Homo sapiens: one gene and its partner. The protein of the gene in region 1 interacts with the protein of each later gene in a pairwise test. Each region holds a gene or a part of one and is shown on either strand. Other genes may lie near its edges.

What was found. Proteins that work in one complex are often made in the same cells at the same time.
Region 2: the proteins of TFF3 (region 1) and AKR1C1 interact in a two-hybrid assay, tested with the Homo sapiens proteins (one study listed by BioGRID).

Annotation. Positions count from the first base shown.
Region 1 is NC_000021.9:42,312,405-42,320,078, forward strand, and holds the start of TFF3 (trefoil factor 3 precursor), read right to left. Parts: upstream 3,006-7,674; 5' UTR 2,971-3,005; coding exon 2,889-2,970; intron 1,228-2,888; coding exon 1,081-1,227; intron 1-1,080. UniProt on the Homo sapiens protein: Involved in the maintenance and repair of the intestinal mucosa. Promotes the mobility of epithelial cells in healing processes (motogen).
Region 2 is NC_000010.11:4,959,543-4,966,442, forward strand, and holds the start of AKR1C1 (aldo-keto reductase family 1 member C1), read left to right. Parts: upstream 1-3,872; 5' UTR 3,873-3,902; coding exon 3,903-3,986; intron 3,987-6,371; coding exon 6,372-6,539; intron 6,540-6,900. UniProt on the Homo sapiens protein: Cytosolic aldo-keto reductase that catalyzes the NADH and NADPH-dependent reduction of ketosteroids to hydroxysteroids.

The DNA.
Region 1 (7,674 bases):
CACCACATGGGGGAATAGCCAAGATTCCCACCTCGGGTTGCTAAGCAAGATAGTGGGACCCAGGGATCAGGCAGATAACAAGCGAGATGGGCCTTGGCAGGGCCATGGCTGGCACTCAGAGGAGAGTGTAGTTCCAGTGGAGCTGAAGGAACAGGACCGGCAGTGGACAGTAGCCAGACCCCTCTCTCTCCTGGCCTTCTCTGGACCCCCACCCCCACCCCTACCCTGGACTTGCTGGGGAGGGTGAAGGGAGGCCCTGGGCAGGGGCCCATCATTGATCAGGGAGCCGGGGCCAGCAGGACTCAGCCTCCCGCATTTCACCCTAGGACAAAGGGCAAGAGAGGCCCCTCTGGATGCTGGTTCCAGGAAGGTACCTCACGCAGGTGCGGCCTTCGTGGGGGCTGAGCTGGCACTTGGACATGGCAGATGGCTTATAGCCAATCGCCCCACCCACGATGTGGGGCAGCTAAGCCTGGTGGAGCCAGGGTGGCAAACCCGTGTGCAGGGCCATCTGTTACCCGCACAGCACGCAGGCTCTCCGCCCCTGGGGAGGGAACCCCCAGGGTGGTTGCCCTGCACCTGCCCTCCACCACGGCAGAGAGAGGGAGAGGAGATGACCCTTGTGGGGGGCAGAGTGGGGGAGGTGGGGTGTGGCACCGAGGCCTGACGTCTAGGGCTGGGACCGCCTGCCGTCTGTGTAGGGGATGCCACAAATGACAAGACTCTGGGGGGCCGATTTGCAAAAACAGCCCAAAAGTCGGCCCGGCTTTCCACACCTATGCGTTTCCACTTCTCTCAAGAATAGTTACTAAATCAGTTCCCTCTATGCGATGCCATCATTTTGAACACCTTTTTGAAACAATTGCTTTTATGTTTTACATAAAGGGGACAGAAGAGGACAGCCCCTGGCCATGGCTGCCCTAAGTGTGAAGCCTCTGCTCTGAGGCCTTGGAACAGGTGTGTGTGTGTGGCTTCCTGGGGTCCTTGTGCCTCCATCTCCAGCCCAGAAAGGACAGGGAGGCCCTGAGACCCCCTGCCTTATGGGGCTGGGCCCAGACCACGATGCCACTGGGGCCTTACCTGCTTCCTGCAGGGGCTTGAAACACCAAGGCACTCCAGGGATCCTGGAGTCAAAGCAGCAGCCCCGGTTGTTGCACTCCTTGGGGGTGACATGGGGGTAGCCGCAGTCCACCCTGTCCTTGGCTGGCACGGCACACTGGTTTGCAGCTGTCCCAGACAAAGCCCTGTCAGCTGCCAGAGCCCTTGCTGGGCTGCGGTGAGTGTGTTTGCTTCACTTTGCAAGTTTGCATCCTCCCGCTCCGCCCCACCCCGCCGAGTTCAACCACTGCTGAAACCCTCGCCCTTAGGAAGATGCACTTTCCCTGTGAATATTTAAAGAGAGGCAGTCTGTTAAATGCTCAGCTCGGGGACTCTGGCCATTTGCCTAAGTGTCTTTCTCCTTGGCACGCTCTTATCACCTTCTCGGGAAGTCACATACGGACCTGGGTACCTTCCAGCTGGCAGGAACCCCTGGGGAATCTGGGGTCCCTTGAACCCAGAAACAAAGTTACCCTTCATTGTTTGACCAACAAAACCTTGCCCCTTTGTTTTAAATGAAAACCGTGACAGGAGAGGCACACGCCATAGAGATCATTGCAACGCATGCTGCCTGCTTTTCACTTTTTTCTGCATCTCCCCTTCCTGAATTGTTGAGCATGTCCCACCCTCCCGGGACATCCTTCAGTCCCCAATATTTTCATGTTTCAGGCAAGCCTCTATGTCTGTATGTGCAGCAGAAGTTCACTGCGTTTCATTAACGAACTGAGTATTTCCTTAGGAAAATGGCAATCACGTGCAGTGTCTTACATTCCCTTCTCTTGCTCCCAGTCCGTAATTGCTTATCCTCCTGGCATCCAAACTTCGCTCACACTGGAATCAGCTGCAGAGCTTTAAAAATGACTGACGTTGGCTGGGCATGGTGGCTTACACCTGTAATTCCAGCACTTTGGGAGGCCAAGGCAGGAGGATCACTTGAGGCCAGGAGTTTGAGACCAGCTTGGCCAACATAGCGAAACTCCATCTCTACTAAAAATCCAAAAAATTAGCTGGGCATGGTGGTGCATGCCTGTAATCCCAGCTACTTGAAGCCGAGGCACAAGAATTGCTTGAACCCAGGAGGCGGAGGTTGCAGTGAGCTGAGATTGTGCCACTGCACTCCAGCAGTGAGTGACAAAGCAAGGCTATCTCAAAACAAAACAGCTGAGGCCTGGATCTTGCCTGGAGATGCCCTGATGTAACTGGTGTGCCCCAAGCATTAGGATTTTTAAAGCTCTCCAGGTGATTCTAATGGGCTGCAAGTTCGGGAACCACTGCCTTTGACCCTGCTCAGAAGACACCCAGATAAAAGCCATGCCCTCATTCCTTCAAACTTGGGTTAATGGAGCAGCCACACCCCATGGCAGGGTTGCTATGCAATGGCTAAATGAACCTTGTGCCTGCCGGTATTGACAGTGTTCTGAAGTCAGGGTTTTTCTCCTGCATCTTTCCTTTTTCTTTGTAAATGTGGAACAATGCATAAAGACCTATATTGTAATTTAGAAATCTCCAGCAAAGATGGCTATGGGGTCATAGGGGATGGGCTCAGGCTCAAACCCTGATTTCAACACAGACTGGGCAGGGCTGCCTTGGATAAGTTGTTAACTTTCTCTGAGCCTCGGTTTCCTTGTCTGTGAAATGGGGACAATAAAGACCCACTTCAAAGGGCTAGCGCAGGAAAAAGTGTATATGTGACAGGTGGCCATTATTAAATGAATGCAGAATCCCCCCTTATCCTGGATCCCTTCCCTTCACGCCCACCCTGCCACCGGGGCAGTCAGGGCAGTACTCACACAGGCCCACGTACTCCTCAGCAGAGCTGGAGGACAGCAAGGCCAGGACCAGCCCCAGCATGCAGAGCGCTCTGGCAGCCATGACCACCGTGGGCTCCGGGACGCAGCTCAGGACTCGCTTCATGGTCCAGGAGGCCTCATTTATGCACCGTTGTTTGCACAGCTGCTCTGGATTGTTTGCTTGGGGAAGGCTCTCCCTCCTGGCTGTGGCTGCTCCTGTTCTCTCCTGCATGCCTTTGTCAAGCTCCCAGACAGTTTTTCTCTCCCAAAGGGGAGAGGTCAGTTCAGCCCCCACTGTTTTGGCAGCAAGCGGTAAGGGCGGATTCCAGTTCTGGTTCCGGGTCCTCTACTGGGGAGCGGATGTGTGTCAATTGCCCTCCTAGCCTGGCCTGGTGTAGTGTGCAGGAGCCATGTGGGGTGGCAGGACCAGGGTGTGGTGTCCGTTCCATCTCAGCCTCCCAGCCAGAAGCCCTCAGAACACCCCTGGTCCCATGACAAGAGAGCCCCAGGCTGCTTCATCCCAGATCGGCCTCGGAGACAGGCAGCTCTGAGTGAGTCAGGACCCTGCGGCTCTCTCACAACTCCTGAAACACAGAGATTCCTTGTCTTTCCTTTTTGCTTTCTCCCCTAAAAATTAGTAACTACATTTTAATAAGTGGATGAAATGAATTGATTGAAAATATGTTAGTAAAAACATGGTACACATAATTGATTTTTAAAATCAAATAATACAAAAGAGCCTTTCCTATCCAGAGGCATCTATTGATCTATTGTGAACACTTTTTTAGGTATCCTTTCAGAATTTTTCTCTCTGGATCTAAGCACGTTTTTTTGGTTTGTTTTTGTTTGTTTGTTTGTTTTGTTTTTTTTTTGTTTTTTTTTTGTTTTTTTTTTTTGGAGACAGGGTCTTGCTCTGTTACCCAGGCTGGAGTGCAGTGGCACAATCTCAACTCACTGAGACCCCCGCCCTCGCGGGGCTCAAGTGATCCTCCCACCTCAGCCTCCTAAGTAGCTGGGCCACAGGCATGTGTCCAGCTAATATTTTGTATTTTTTTAGAGACCAGGTGTCGCCATGTTGGCCAGGCTGGTCTCAGACTCCTGGACTCAAGTGATCTGCCTTCCTTGGCCTCCCAAAGTGTCAGGATTACAGGCATGAGCCACTGCACTCGGCCACATTTTTAACACAAACAGGAACTGACTCTCCACCTTTGCCCAGCGTGCTCTTTTAAAAACTAAAGACTACATCTCAGGAATTGTTTTATAACAACATATCAGATGAGACAGCGATGATTCTATCCATTTTCCAGAGGAAGAAACTAAGACTCAACATTTCCGGTGCCTATCAGAGGTTACTCCAGTGTCCCTGGTATAGCTGGTATTTAACCCACTCCCAGGACCCTAAGCCTCCGCCCTCGGCATCCGCAGCATCCCCCAACCCCCCAACCTCCTGCAGTGGACTGGCTGGTAGTGGGCAAGAGACTAATCTCATTCCAGGAAAACGGGCCCCTAGATTTTGTGTTCTCCGTGTTTCTTTTCCAGGGAGGCATTTTGATGACCCCCACTGGCCCTTCCAGGAGCCTCTGTCTGAAGGGTGGACTTGGTTTATCACCCCGAGAAATGGGAGCGCCTGGCTGCTTGGATTTAGCCTGCAGCTGGGGTCCCCGGTGGTGTGTGCAGGGCGGCCTTGAGCCTCCAAGGGTGCATCCACAAACTGCCCTTCCCCGAGTGACCCATGGGAGCTCGATGGCGTACGTGCTGAGCACCAGGATGTGTCCTGCCCTGTGACTCCCAGGCCCCGCCCTTGCGCTCAGCACGCCCTTTGTGGATGGATTTGAGGGCCCCTGGCCTCTGATGTGCCACTCCCGCTGAGGCCAGCGAAGGAGGAAGAAGGAAAGAGCGTTGCCTGCCTTGTTTTCGGGGCACTCACTTTTTCTGGGAGACAGCGGACCCAGGTTCATCAATGGACAGCAGGATTTTCATGTTATTAAAAAGGTCATTGTAGGGGAAATCCCTGGGGGATCTGGTGAGATCTCCCTGGGGGATCTGGTGAGATCTCCCTGCCTTCCCACTGCTCCTAGTACCCAGAGGCCAGGCCAGGTCGTGGTGCAGGGCTGAGTTCCAGGAGGGTGCAAACACCCCAGGAACAGACTGCTGCCCCTCCGGCCCTCATGACCTGCTGGGGAAGGACCCCCGCAAGGAGCTTCTGCAGGTGCTGTGGTCTCCACCTGCTGCACTCAAAATTGCCTGGAGTGGGGAGAATATCAATGCCTGGGCCCCGCCCTGACAGGTGGTTCTGTCGCCTGTGATTCTTCTCTGCGGCCAGCACCGAGAACCCTGCTGGGGTTTGCTTCCGTTTAACTAGTGAATGTTGACTGAGCTCCTACTGCCTACACCCAGGGTTTAGGGCTGGGGAAGGAATAACAAAGGTGACACATTCTTGTCCTTGAAGAGTCCCCCCGCAAAGGGAGACGGGATCATGTCAGAGTTAAGATGGTGAAGCCAAGACTAGGTTCTGTGCTGCCTGACCTTGGGCAAGTCACGTCCCATCTGTACCTCAGTTTCCCTACATGTCACAGGGTGCTCACCCCACAGGACAGCATGAAGTGGTGCTGCACAGCCCAGCCAGGTGCCTGGGACACACACTGACCACCTGCCGGGTGTGCTGGATCAACCATGATGGCAGAGGAGAGGATTCCTGGTCCCGGCTCTGGTAGGAGCAAAGGCTGTGGCAAGGGGGCCAGAGCTGGGTCCTGTCAGGTGGAGACGCACAGGCTTCTCAGAGAAGGGGGATTTGGGCTGCACCTCTGGAGAGGTCAATGGGGAGGCCCGTGTGTGTCCCCTCTCTCTGTTCTAGGAGCCCCCTCCCCAGGAGCCCTGGGCTCTGTACAGGAACAGAGGATGGCATGGGAGAGCCCAACCTGCCTTCCAGAGCCTGCATTCCCACAGCCTTCCCCAGCCACCCTATTCCCCTGGGGGAGTTCCAGTTCCAGAGAAAAAGCAGAGCTGTTGTCAGAGCTGTAGGCCGTGCGGTAGTGGGCATCGGGCCCAACCCAGACAGGTGGCTCCCCTGGGCAACCCAAGACCTGGGGGTGAGCAGGACTGGCTCTAAAGGAGCCTCTCCCTTTCCTCCTTGGGAGCCGCATCCCGCATCCCTGCAGCAGCCTCGTCAGCTGTGTGCGGTGTGGCGGTGTGGGCCGTCCCAGGAGCCCTGCAAATCCCTCCCACCCTGGGCCTTGTGCAGGGGCTCCTGGATGGATCCAAGAAGAAGACAGTCTGCTCCCCCATGCCGGGGCTGCAACCTTTCACCTCCCGGATGCGTGGTCATTGTCACGTGCATATAACAAGCACAAGCTGAGCATGGGTCCCAGGTCAGGCACTCGGCCTGCAGATGTGGGAGCCCCAGAACATCAGGCAGAGCCCGTGCCCTCAGAGCTCACAGGCTGGTGAGGAGGAACAAGCCTTCAAGCATGAATTGTGGTGCAGTATGATTAGAGCTGGCAGAGTGGGGTGAAATCTGACTAGGTCTTGAGGGATGAGTACAAGTTCACCAGATGGGAGGGGTGAAGGTCAGAGGGGCACATTTCATTTTATTTTATCTTATCTTATTTTATTTTATGTTATGTTAAGTTATTTTATTTTATTTTATTTTATTTTGAGACAGGGTTTCTCTCCCATCACCCAGGCTGGAGTACAGTGGTTCAACCTCAGCTCACTACAGCCTACACCTCCCAGGCTTAAACGATCCTCCTCCCTCAGCCTCCCGAGTAGCTGGGATTACAGGTGCATGCCACCACACTTGGCTAATTTTTGTATTTTTAGTAGAGACAGGGTTTCACCATGTTGGCCAAGCTGGTCTCGAACTCCTGACTTCAGGCAACCCATCTCTCTTGGCCTCCCAAAGTGCTAGGATTACAGGTGCACGCCACCATGCCCGGCTAATTTTTGTATTTTTAGTAGAGCTGAGGTTTCACCATGTTGGCCAGGCTGGTCTCAAACTCCTAACCTCAAGTGATTTGCCTGCCTCAGCCTCCCAAAGTGCAGAGGGGCAGGTAAGGCCATAACACTGCCTACTTTGCACTAACTCACTGCCCCACAGAAAACTCAGAGTTGATGTGGCACATGCAGGTTATAGGGTCTGCATCACCGCTCAGTTTTCTGGTATTGTCACTCGATTACTCAAGCAGCAGACAGTCCGAGGGAGGAAGGAAGTAGGAAGTTGTGCTAATCAGCACCCGTGGGTGGCCCAGGGCCGCACACCTCCCAGGAGCACCCTGCTGCCCAGCTGTCTCTCGGTCTGCAGCTGCCATGGGTGCCGCCCCTCACTCTGCACAGAACTTCCTCCTGCCTCCCTGAGAGAGGCTCGAAGACCCTTCCTGAGTCATCACGACCTGAATGTAGGTGCTTTGGGGAGGCAAACGCAGTGACCCATTCAAGGATGCTTCTGTCTTGACACATAGTCCACTGAGGACAAATGGGGGTGGGGACCAGGAGCAGAGCAAATGCCACCACCACGTGTAAAACAGGAAGGTCAGAACGCAGAGCAGCCCAGTGGGCTCGGAAGGGGGCATGGGCTCCAGGGTTCCCTTGTGCAGCTCAAGGAGCACTTGGTGCTGTTTCAGCCACTCGTCTTGAGAAGCAGCCACAGAGCCCTCTAAACCCAGAGCGTCTGTGGGTTTGGGACCGTTGCATCAGCCCCACGTGCAAGGGACAGGAAAGGTTCCCAGAAAGGCATGGACTGACGGCCAGAAATAATGCAGCTGACCGCGGTGGACAGGAGCACCTCACC
Region 2 (6,900 bases), on another chromosome or scaffold:
AAATACAAAAATTAGCTGGGCATGGTTGTGCACGCCTGTAGTCCCAGCTACTCAGGAGGCTGAGGCAGGAGAATTGCTTGAACCTGGGAGGCAGAGGTTGCAATGAGCTGAGATCGCACCACTGCACTCCAGTCTAGTGACAGAGCAAAACTCTGTCACAAAAAAAAAAAAGAATTTTTTTTGCCAAATATGGAATTATTGGCTGTAATTTTTTTTAATTGATCACATTAAATGTATCACTTACTATATCCTCCAAAGACTCTCGTAAGAAATCTGTGGATCACCTTGTTCAGGATCCCTTGTACCCCATGATTCTTGTTTCTCTTCCTACTTTTTGTTTTGTTTTGTTTTGTTTTTTATTTATTTATTTATTTATTTTTAATTTTATTATTATTATACTTTAAGTTTTAGGGTACATGTGCACAATGTGCAGGTTTGTTACATATGTATACATGTGCCATGTTGGTGTGCTGCACCCATTAACTCGTCATTTAGCATTAGGTATATCTCCTAATGCTATCCCTCCCCCCTCCCCCCACACCACAACAGGCCCCGGTGTGTGATGTTCCCCTTCCTGTGTCCATGTGTTCTCATTGTTCAATTCCCACTATGAGTGAGAACATGTGGTGTTTGGTTTTTTTTGTCCTTGCGATAGTTTGCTGAAAATGATGGTTTCCAGTTTCATCCATGTCCCTACAAAGGACGTGAACTCATCATTTTTTATGACTGCATAGTATTCCATGGTGTATATGTGCCACATTTTCTTAATCCAGTCTATCGTTGTTGGTCTTTTAGGTTGGTTCCAAGTCTTTGCTATTGTGAATAGTGCTGCAATAAACATACGTGTGCATGTGTCTTTATAGCAGCATGATTTATAATCCTTTGGGTATATACCCAGTAATGGGATGGCTGGGTCAAATGGTATTTCTAGTTCAAGATCCCTGAGGAATCACCACACTGACTTCCACAATGGTTGAACTAGTTAACAGTCCCACCAACAGTGTAAAAGTGTTCCTATTTCTCCACATCCTCTCCAGCACCTGTTGTTTCTTGACTTTTTAATGATCGCCATTCTAACTGGTGTGAGATATTTTTTTTTGGGAGGGGGGATTGAGTTTTGCTCTTGTTGCCCAAGCTGGAGTGCAATGGTGCAATCTCGACTCACTGCAACCTCCACCTCCTGGGTTCAAGCTATTTTCCGGGATTAGCCTCCTGAGTAGCTGGAATTACAGGTGTGCACCCCCATGCCTGGCTAATTTTTTGTATTTTTAGTAGAAATAGGGTTTCACCATGTTAGCCAGGCTGGTCTCGAACTCCTGACCTCAGGTGATCCGCCTGCCTCGGCTCCCAAAATCTCTTGCTATTTAAAGATTATCTCTTTGTCTGGCTTTTAGAGTTGGATGATAACACATACAGATCTGGGTCTCTTAGAGTTTATACTATTTGCAGTTCTTTAAGTGGCCTGAATTTGTAGATTGTTGTCTTTAACCAATTTGAAAAAGTTTTGATGTTTTTATTCTCCAAATAATCTGTCTACCACCATGGGTTTGCACTTCTCCTTCTGGGAATCCAATACTATCATACTGGTCGGCTTGAAGCTGTCCCATAAGTCCCTTAGGACCGGTTCACATTTCTTTATTCTTGTTTCGTGTCCTTAGACTCAGGAACTTCAAATGCGCTATCCCTATGTGTATTGATTATATCTTCATCCTGCTCAAAGTTGCTATTGAAACACCCTCTGGTGAGTTCTTCATTCAGGTACTTTTTTTGCTCCAATTTTTTCCTTTTTTATAATTTCTATATTACTACTGTATCGTGATTTTCTTATTGTTTTCAGATTTTCTGTAGTTCTTAGTCCATATTTTTCATTAGCAATTTTAGCATATTTAAGCAGCTGTTTAAATGCTTCTCTACTAATTTTAATGCCTGTGATTCTTCAGGAAAGATTTCTACTAATTTATTTTCTTTCTCATAATGAACTGTGATTTCTTGTTTCCTTGTATGCCTTGTCATTTTATTTTATTTTTTTGAGCCAGAGTCCTGCTCTGTCGCCAGGCTGGAGTACAGTGGTGCCATCTCGGCTCACTGCAACCTCTGCCTCCTGGGTTCAAGCGATTCCCCTGCTTTAGCCTCCCGAGCAGCTGGGACTACAGGCGTCCGCCACCACGTCCGACTATTTGTTGTTGTTGTTGTTGTTGTTGTTCTTGTTGTTGTTGTTCTTATTTTAGTAGAGACAGGATTTCACCATGTTGACCAGGATGGTCTCCATCTCCTGCCCTCGTGATCTGGCCGCCTCGGCCTCCCAAAGTGCTGGGATTACCACTGCTCCAGGCCTGTATGCCTTGTTATTTTATCTAATTGGGCATTTGAAAAAATAAACATCTTTTTTACTGTATATAGATTTGTTCTATGTCATGACAGTCATTAACTTATATGTGTGGCAGGTTCTCAGTCAAGGCATCAGCCCTACATAAAACCTCAAGTCCTTCTTAGTTTGTTTCTGAACATGCACCTACGTGGACTGTGTTTGCCCTTTTATGTATCCCCAAATAACCAATGGCTTTTGAATTGCTTACTATTATGAAATTTCGCATCCCAGTTTCTCCTCAATGGCTTAGATGGACTATTGCATGTCTCTTCCCCTGGCCTTTTGCCTATAACATCTGTATGTGTATAGTCACCCTGAATCTCTACTGAGCCACTCCAGAAATAAATAAGTTTATTTCAGTCAATTTTAGGTATTTTCTGATGTTTCCATGAGTTATATGGGAATCTTAGAATCCACCATCTTGTTGAAATTACTCTGTGAAAAATTTCAATATCTTTATAATATTACATTTATGTCAATGATAACAATTTACCTATTTTTCAATTTCTGTTTGTTTTATGAAAAAGCAAATAGAAGCAATCAGGGCACTGCAAGTTGTGACTACTCCAAGATGTGAATCATGGATCATGCAAATTACAATCATGTTTTAACCTGACCTCCAAAGGGAGAATAAAGTAAAAATTATCCCATGCGAGGATTATTCACCAGTTTATATGTCATTAGTTACCAGTTTTTCTTTATGAATAATGTTTAGCAATATTATAAAGTATATCTAATAGTTATCATATTTTGGCTTGTTACTTTTTGGTAGCAATTCATAAAAATGGCTGGAAAAGACAAATAAGGCACTGTTTGCATGTTACAAATTATATCCAAAGTCCAAAAGCTGTTAATAAGAAATCTTCCAATAAAACCACATCATATTTTCTTTTTTATTTACACCCACATCAGGATTACAACTTTATCAGGACTGCACCTTGATCAGGAAGGGATGTTTCTCTTACAAGGCTAATAAGAAAGGAACAATAAATTTGCTGATGAAAAAAGTAATGCATTAAAAAATTTTAACTTTAATTTTTAATTGAGGGCAATATTTTAAAGAAATGCTCATTAGTCATTCCTTTAAATTGTGTGTGTGAGAGAGAGAAAAATGAAAATTAGTCATTTCAAATGCTGCAAGATGCAGAAGGAACTCATCATCATGACACAAACAAAAAAGAGCTGTGCCGCTAGAGGTTTCTGTATTCTTATGTAAAGTCACAATTTGTTCTACAAATCTCTTTGAGTAATTTATGTCTCATATATAGAGATCTGGAATAGCAAAAATACTTCAGAGGAAATTAATGAGTGTATCATGACCACATAATAATTTACTTATGAATTTTCTTAGGTAAGAAACGGTTGAACTGGATGCAATTTTTATCACAGCTTGTGTAAGACTGCCTCTGTCCCTCCTCTCACATGCCATTGGTTAACCAGCAGACAGTGTGCTCAGGGGCGTTGCCAGCTCATTGCTCTTATAGCCTGTGAGGGAGGAAGAAAGAAACATTTGCCAGCCAGGCTAGTGACAGAAATGGATTCGAAATATCAGTGTGTGAAGCTGAATGATGGTCACTTCATGCCTGTCCTGGGATTTGGCACCTATGCGCCTGCAGAGGTAACAATAATATTTTTAGTGTTGAGAGTTCAAAGGAGCTAGAGTAAGTGGAAGCTGACCAGGTTGTCAGGCTTGTGTTCCTATGTTACTCTGCATGACTCCCCTTTAAACGTCAGTCTTTGTTCTGCAATGCCATCTTGTCACAGGGTCATCTACTGCTTATTTGTGGCACTGTTTTGTCTTCTGTTTATGTTTATTTCACAGCTTGTCAGAGTCTATACAACTCAGCAGAAAGAACACGGCTTGCCTGCTCCCTCTCTTGAAGATTGATTGCAATGGGAGTGGTTTCTCTGTTTCTTTGTATAGTCGAACAGATATTTACTTCTTCCAAGAAGATACAATTCAGAGGAATTTTTATGGCAAAAGTTAGTGGAGACGGGGTGGATGAAATCTGTTGGGAGAGTATCACTGTTCTGATGGGCGGCCTTGAGCACCACACTGTAATACTAGACCTGGCCTAAAGAGAATTTCTCATGTACTATTCTCACCTCTGGGAAAATTACCTGAAACGATAAAATATCCTCATTTTAAGAAAAAAAAAATACTAGAACCTAACAAGGAAAATTTAAATTCTTTTTCTTTGTTAATATGGGTCAAATTTGTATCAAAATATTGTAACAGAAAAATTTCTTGTTTCTCTGACAGGAAAATTAATGGAATAGATTTTCTTTTCTAGACTTAGCTATTTCTACACTGGAAGAAAACTTGTATCTCAAGACTGTCTTGGGAATACAATGTGTGTGAATAGGGACTAGTTACATAAAATTTGGGTTTCACATTTCTGATCTATACAATATAAGGATTTACAAAGGGACATTTTGAAGACCATTGACAGGAGTGGTTTACTTTGTAATATAAATTGACATGGAGAGGAAGTAAAGATGAGGATACCACTAAAGCTCCAGCTTTGGTAAGCCTTTGAGTACTCATACAGCAAAGAAATGATCAAGGATGGTATGAGGAGAGGGCTGTGAGACCCAGTATCTAGTTCCTTGTAATTCTATGGGAAAAAGAAAGCCTCTGAAATACTTTCCAGATAGGAAAACAGTTTGCTTTGTTTCTGTTTTTGTCATTTAAAAGATATACTTTCAAATCTGTATCCAAATTTGTTACGTAAGTCAATAATTGTAAATTTCACTGCAATCATATGTTTCCTAAAAGAGTTGCCTTGAACTTATGGAACTGAACCCCATTTTGCTAATCACTTACTCCTTGCAGTCTATTTCTTATACAAATCAATATCCTTAGAGTATACATTTTTACACCTACTATTTAGTTCTGTCATGCCGACAGAATGGCTAATGGCTGTGTAGAAAAGACTTGACATAATAGACTGCTATCCATAGACAGGCCTGTTTCCCATATAAACCTGCTGGTATCTGATAAGGTGGATTTCTCACTATTTCCTAACTGATAAGAATGGTGGCTGTAAGTAACTGCTTGTGCAAACTGCGGAGTTTCTGTGCACCTGCTTTCCTTTTGGAGACTTTTGGAAGTTTTGTGCCTGCGAAGCAGAGTGAGTCAATGTAACCAGTCCCAGACAAAATCTTAGTAATGGAGTATGTAGAGAGCATCTCTTGTAGACAACAGTTCACATACATTGACAAAATATGATTCCGGGTAAAGTCAGTGCATTCTGTGCAATATGGTGGGAGAGGAATCACAGGAGCTTACACTGTATTCCTTCATATTTCCTTCCATGTGGCTATTTCCTCGTGTTAATTTCTTTTTTTGTTTGTTTGGTTTTTGTTTTGTTTTTCTGAGATGGAGTCTCGCTTTGTCGTCCAGGCTGGAGTGCAGTGGTGCGACCTCAGCTCACTGCAAGCTCCGCCTCCTGGGTTCACGTCATTCTCCTGCCCCAGCCTCCCCAGTAGCTGGGACTACAGGCGCCTGCCACCATGCCCGGCTAATTTTTTCTATTTTTAGTAGAGATGGAGTTGTTAACCAGGATGGCCTTGATCTCCTGATCTCATGATCCGCCCAGCTCGGCCTCCCAAAGTGCTGGGATTACAGGTGTGAGCCGCCACGCCTGGCCATTCCTTGTGTTAATTTTACCATACTAAAAATAATTAAGATTATATCTATAACTATAGGTTGCATCCTGTTAATTTTTCCAAAAAATGACTGAACCTGAAATTGTTTTGGGGACACTTCCAAACTAGTGGTCAAGCAGTGATTTTTCTGGGACTGCAGAAGTTCCTGCTGTGCCCAACCTTTATTACTAACTGGGAAAGACCCAGGGAGACTGGGATGGGCTCATGATTCTACATACAGAACTCATCCAAGAAAGGAGGAAAAGCTGATTTTTGTGAACGTCGCTACTTGTGCCTGAACTAACTCTCAGGCACATTAGTCAGAAAATACTACCTATGGTTACTCCCCCAGGTTCCTAAAAGTAAAGCTTTAGAGGCCACCAAATTGGCAATTGAAGCTGGCTTCCGCCATATTGATTCTGCTCATTTATACAATAATGAGGAGCAGGTTGGACTGGCCATCCGAAGCAAGATTGCAGATGGCAGTGTGAAGAGAGAAGACATATTCTACACTTCAAAGGTACTGTGCCTATGATGAGCTTGTGTGCACATGTATTTATTGTGATTGTGTGGAGGTGGCAGTTCTATGACTGGATCCATAGTATAGGGTGAATTGTGCTTATTTATTACGATTTATTCACACTTACTCATGTATTAAAACTAATATCAAAGGCAGGAAGTGAAGATGGCTTTCTCATCTTTGCAGTGTTCCAATTCATGCCTTCAAAGTGCCTTTACTTTTTGAGCTCAGCACAGATCAATATGGTTTAACATAGACTATAGAATCAGAAAAAATCCTAATCATATTATATTATTTCTTACCTCCTGGGTGAGTTTCTTACACTTGTTATGATTCTCAGTTTCCATTATTATGTTGATCA